Regions from separate parts of the Homo sapiens genome. Here region 2 is linked to region 1. A link means that fine-mapping ties the variant in region 1 to the expression of a gene that starts in the linked region. Tissue or cell type: whole blood. Region 1 holds a variant in brackets; the other region holds the start of a gene. All regions are shown on one strand. Distances are between the middles of the regions.

Region 1 (2,900 bases):
GATCAGGGACACTAGCGTCTGGGCTTCTCTGAGCCTCCTGGAGGGCCCACCCAGCCTCCCTCTCTTCCCACCCTTGCCTGGCCACCTCCCCACAGTTCTGCCTGGAGCTCTACAACCCTAGCTGCCGAGGCCAGAAAATCAAGGCCTGCAAGACCGATGGCGACGGCAGGGTGGTGGAGGGCAAGCACGAATCGTACCGCATCTCAGCCACCAGTGCCGAGGAACGTGACCAGTGGATCGAGTCCATCCGGTAAGGGGTGCCCAGGTCTGGGGACGGCTTCCCGTCACCTTCCAGAAGGCCCTGCTTCTTTTGGGTCTTGCTTCCTTATCTGTAAAGGGGCTAACTCCAGTCTCTCCCTCCTGTTTCTGGCTGGCAAACCCCTTCCACCCGTATTCCATGGGTACTTTCTGTGTGCCTGGCACCAGGCCAGGCCCCAGGACACAGGGAAAGGAGAGACCACCTGCATGGGGTTGGTGGGAGAATAGAGCAAAGAGTTGCACATAAAGTTCTTGCCCCGCCCTTGCCTGGCACGTGGTGAGTGCTCTTGTTGGCATCACTATCCAAAGTGGCCTGGGAAGGACCTGGTGGAGGTGGAGGGAAGGGCTTTCCAGATAAACTTCCAGGTAAAAGGACCCGGACCCATGTGGGCAACCAGCAGGCGGCCTACCTGCACAGCATCCCGGAGTCCGAGTGAGGCTAAGCAGTGTGGGAGCTGAAACTGCTGAGCATGACAAAGCCACAGCCACCGTGGTGAAGAGCTTCAGTTTCTCCTGGGGCACTGGGGAGCCATAGACTCATAAATAGGGAGGGGTGGCTGGGTGAGGAAAGCCAAAGTGTAGGGACTGGTTCTGTGGTGCCACCAACAGGAGAGACATGAGGAAGATGCATCTGGTAAAGGGCAAGATGGCAAGCCTGCTCAAGGCTTGACTCTGAGCCAGCCCAAGATATTGGCAAGGGTGAGGCCTGGTGGCCAGAGGAAGGCTGAAGTGGTTGCTGGGCAGGGGCCGTGTCCCGGGGACTTGCAGGGTCTTTTCCCCTGGGCCTTGTGAGCCTGTGAGGCTGCCAGGCAGACCCATTCTCACCTCCATCTTACACATGAGGAAACTGAGGCCCAGAGATGGGAGGGACCTGCCCAGGCCACAGAACCAGGGACAGAGCAGGGTCCAACAGGCAGGTCTGCCAGCTCCACCCCAAGCTCTTCCCATCACCTTCCGAAGGTCGCCAGTGGGAGCCTGGAGAGGGGCCCAGAGACATTTGGGAGTAGAATTCCCAAGGCTCTCAGCTCCTGATCGGAGGCCTCACCCACTCTGGCCCTGCCCATGGGACACTGGGTTAGGCTTACAAGTCTGGACTTACCCTGGCACAGCCTTTG[T/C]TGGGGCCATCTGGCCTTTCCCCCGCGGCAGAGCAGGCTGACACCTCCCTGGGAATCCCATGCCCCTGATACAAGCCCTGGGAGAGCAGACCACCTTGACGGCCAGTCCAGCCCTGAAATCTCTCCTCCCACTCATTCTAGAGCCAGCATCACCCGTGTCCCCTTCTACGACCTGGTCTCTACTCGGAAGAAGAAGATTGCCAGCAAGCAGTGAGATTCCTGGAGGTGGCACTGGGGGCTGGTCACCCTGAGAGTCCCATCGCCTGCAGCACCTGGAGACCCACCTCCCACCCCAGTGCACTCTTTTGGGCCACAGACATCATTGCTGTTCCCCGTTACCTCGAGCTGACTCTAGAGGGGAAGGCAGAGCTCAGGAGGGTGGGTGGGAGCTGCAGTGGGCTCAGAGTCCAGCAATGAGGCCCCCTGGCCTGGGCACCCAGCTGCAGGCCCCTGCCCTACGTGCACTACAGGAAGGGGTGAGGAGAGCAGCCAGAGGAAAACCAGCCCCAGAATGCTGCAACTTCTCTTCTCTCTGGACTTCGGTGTCCTCGGCTCTGAAGGCGCTCTCTGCACTTAGATGCTGTCAGCCCTCAACGTAGGAGGGGCCGTGGGGTCCCTAAGTGATTCTTCTCCCTGGCAAGGCTCTTCCTTTTCAGGGATATCTCTGCCAACCCCTCCCCTGTCCTCGGGTTGGGCTTGGCCCTCTCTGCCTGAGAGAGCTCAGCACACACACAGCTCAGACCCACGGACAGGACCCCGGGACAGAACCCCGGGAGCACTGCCCTAGGAGCCCGGACCCCACGAGCTCAGTCCCAGCTCTGCCTCTGACTCGCTGTGTGCCCTCTGCCAAGTCATGCCCATTCTCTAGTTCTTGCAAAACTGCAGTGTTTGGACTAGAAACGTATTGGCCCCTGCTAGCCCTGTGCTCCAGCTTCCAGCTGGAGATGGCAGCCGTTGTTTGCGGAGCCCAGGCTGACTCCGGATTCAACGTTGCTGGGGAGAGAAAAGCAGTATAGACTCCACCTTCCAGGATGTCCATTTCGGGGAGAGGAGCAGGTGGGACCCTCAAGAAAATGACGGAGAACATCCCAGACAGATGGGACTCAAGCAGGATGGGTGCTATATCCAAGAAGCCAAGAAGGGAGAGTTTCGTGCACTGTGGTTAACAGGAGGGCTGCCTGGAGGCAGTGGCTGAGCCAGAAAGTAACACAGAGCTCATGCTTGGAGAGAGAGAGTCTTGGCCATGGCTTTCCTGCAAGACCACTGACGAGCAGTCCCATGGTGATAAAGGGCAGCCCGGCGGGTCCCAGCATCTCGAGACCCTCTGCAGAAGTATTATCAGAGTAGAGCTGACTTCCAGTACCCGGGCAGCCAGCTCTGTCTCCAGGGAGGCCTGGCCTGGAGGAGGAGTCCACTAACAGGAAACACTTCTCACCCCCTCACACAGGCCCAGGGGAGCCCCTGGAGGGAAATTCCTTGGCAGGGGAACAGGAAATGTGGCCGCCTCTGCCCCACTGCCAGCCTGAG
Region 2 (2,900 bases), 31 kb before region 1:
ACATCGGCCGTGATCTCTTCCATGTTCCCTTCATTCATTCATTCATTCATTCATTTGTTCATTCATTCCACACTTGCACACCCTCTATGTCCCCAGCATTTTACCACACACCAGAACACAAAAGGTAACCTTGCCCTCATGGGGCCTGGAGAGTAATGGGGAAACAGATGAATAACTCTGCATGTGTCCTGAAGTTATAGGGAATTCACATTTAATTTATACCTGTTTCTTTACAGCAAAGCTTTTTGCAGAAAGGATTTGAACCAACCTGCCAGAAAAGGCACAAGGAATAACATGATACATTTTAACCAAAGAAGATAATTAAAATCAAAGGAGAAAGTGTTTATTGAGCACCTACTATGTCCCAAGCATCTCCGACACATCCTCTCACTCCATGGTTTCCATATCCCCGAGTTAGTGTTATTCCCCTTTCAGAGATAAGCAAAGCGAGGCTGACTAGCCCTAGCTGAGAGTCAAACAGCTGAGTCAGGCCCCAAAGTTCACATGACATCATAGAATAGCTGTCGATGAGCTTTGGATTTGACGATGAGTTTCCCAGCAGCCTGGGGGAGAAGGAAAGTGGAACATATTACCCGATTGTTCACTAGACAAGAAAAAGCCAGATATTTCTTTGAAGGGAAGCAAAGCCCTTCCTAGCAGTGAATTCATTTGTCTCTTCTCAAGTGGGAGTTGGAAGAGAGCTTGTGGGGTGGAACACAGGGGGCCCTGCTAGGACTGTCCAAGTTGGGCGCTCCTATGGCATATATGTGAGGAGGCTGCCACGTGAATGCCCATGGTCCCCTGGAAAATGTTCGTCCTCAGTGAACATCGCCCTCGGTGTCTGTGCATGTGTACGTGTGTATGTGCATATGTGTCTGTGTGTTTCTTTCTGTCTCACTGTCTTTCTCTTTTTTATCTGGCCCTCCCCTCACTTCATCTGTTTGTTTGTTTGTTTGTTTGTTTGTTTCCACCTCTGTCCCTCCCTGGCAAAAGTCCCTGCTGCTCAAAACTCTGCCAGTTTTTAGGAAGTGCTGTTTTGTCAAAAGCCTGCACACGAGACCCCCGTGGGCCAGGACTGACTTCCTCCCCACACAGGGCTGGGCGGGGCAAGCAGGAAGGAGCCTGTTACAGTCAAGGTGACGCATCCTTGCCGGGCCAGCCCGAACAGCAGCTGGGTCGGCAAGCGACAGGAGCACGGGTCATCTTTTCCCCAGAGGCGTCGGAATGGACCTGTGCCACCCAGGTAAGCAACTGCCGTCAACCTCTCTGGGCCTCAGGGTGCTCTCTTTTAGAATGGGACAGCAGCCCCTGCCTCACAGGGTCCTAGATAAAGGAATACAGCGCAGGTGGGAAATGCAGCTGCAAGAAGCAAACATTTGTGGGCTCAGCCTGTGTGTCCAGTTGCGTTCTAGGGGCTGGACACACAGCAGTAGCAAAGCAGACGCTGTTTCCCCCTTCATAGGCTTGTGCTCTAGATGAGGAGACCGGCAGTGACTCTAATGTGATTCCATATGTCAGTTGATGGCAGGTAGGATGAAGAACAGTAAAGCAGGGTAAGGAAGACAGGAATGCATGGTGGAAAAGGCCCCAAGAGGAGATGCTGTCTGATGAGGGACCTGAGGAAGATGTCAGCTAAGGGGCTTTCTAAGGAACAAACATTCCAGCCAGAAGGAACAGCCAGTCCAAAGGCTCAGAGGTGGACTCAGAAAAGTGACTTGCGATTAAGATGATGATGGGATGTTGGTGATGGCGATGCTTGTCTGGGTGATACAAGGGCCTTGAGGCCCCTTTTTGGCCCCCGGGGGTTGGGGTGGTCTTTGGGGAGGCTGAGGACGCTGCCTAGAGCCAGGGGAGGGCCAGGAGTGAGCAACAGAGGCTCTGGTTGAAACCCTCCCCAGCTACTAAGACAATGTGTCTGGGGAGAAAGAGGAGAAAGGAGGCTGCAAAGATGGTGAGGAAAAGAACATCAGGGTCGTGTTTTGGGAGGCAAATTGAAGGCCCGGTAGAGGGGCCAAGTTTCTGCACCCTGGATGTCAGCATGCTCCAGAGCTGCAACAGTTCTGGTGAACACGGCTGCTGGAATTCCAGAACCTAAGGGCTCGTGGGAGCTGTCTGCTCCCCAGGTCCAGATGACCTCAGCCTTGTCCAGGAGCACCCTTGCTTCAAACGCACCTAATGTGGAGCAGCCTGGCCCCGCCCACTGGGCATCCCCCTTCCTCCCCACCCCCAGATGGAAGCCTCGGGCCCCAGGGAACCCAGAGAACCACTGATCCATTTCAACAGCCCCCCCAGTGGCAGAAGGGAGAAAAGAGGCCAAGGGAGGAAAACAGCCTCTCTAAGGCAGGAGCAGGACCAAATCCTGTTCCCTGAATCCCTATCCAGGGCTCACTCTGACCCCTGCCTCTCCCATGGGCTTTGGGGGCTCCCAAAATCACAGCTCAGTGAGCACAGCTTGGGGGCACCTGGTTGGCACAGGGAGACCCAGCGAAGGGCAGCACCTGGCTCAGGCCTCTCAGCAGACATGAGGGTGGGATGAGGGGGGGAGGGCACCCACCGAGATGCAACCCCCCTGCCTGTGTGTCCAGCAGGGCGCTTTGTCCTTTCGGGTCCTAACATACTGAGGTTACAGGGATGGCTGTCTCCATGTTGCAGATAAGGAAACTGAGGCTCCCAGAGGTGAACTAGAGACGGGGACTGACTTGCTTGAGGTCACACGGCCAGTCAGCAGCAGAGCAGGGACGAGAACCTGCGGGAGAGAGCCCCAGGTTGGCCGGGGCTATGGAGAGGGCAGGGGAGGGGAGTCTCTGCTTTGCTTCAGCCGGTACTAGGGAGGAAATGGATTAAATGGGGTCAATGGGTTCTCCATCGAGTAGTTGGTCTTTTCATTCATTCACTCTACA

Evidence for each region. PIP is the estimated chance that this variant, and not a neighbour inherited with it, causes the effect.
Region 2: CYTH4 starts here. The variant in region 1 is fine-mapped to the expression of CYTH4 in whole blood (TOPMed, PIP above 0.99).

What each region holds. Positions count from the first base shown.
Region 1 is chr22:37,311,925-37,314,824 of GRCh38, forward strand. It overlaps CYTH4 (cytohesin 4), which reads left to right. Exons shown (of 13, transcript NM_013385.5): 12 at 96-250; 13 at 1,515-2,900. The coding sequence ends at 1,587. It overlaps LOC105373024 (a long non-coding RNA gene), which reads right to left. Exons shown (of 4, transcript XR_938232.3): 3 at 669-779. Among named protein-coding and RNA genes, the nearest start is that of CYTH4, 31 kb to the left of the region's middle. RefSeq lists an enhancer at 1-359. The variant T/C (reference allele first, on the strand shown) is at 1,374.
Region 2 is chr22:37,281,346-37,284,245 of GRCh38, forward strand. CYTH4 (cytohesin 4) reads left to right here and starts at 1,163. Exons shown (of 13, transcript NM_013385.5): 1 at 1,163-1,243. The coding sequence starts at 1,225. RefSeq lists enhancers at 922-971, 2,518-2,567.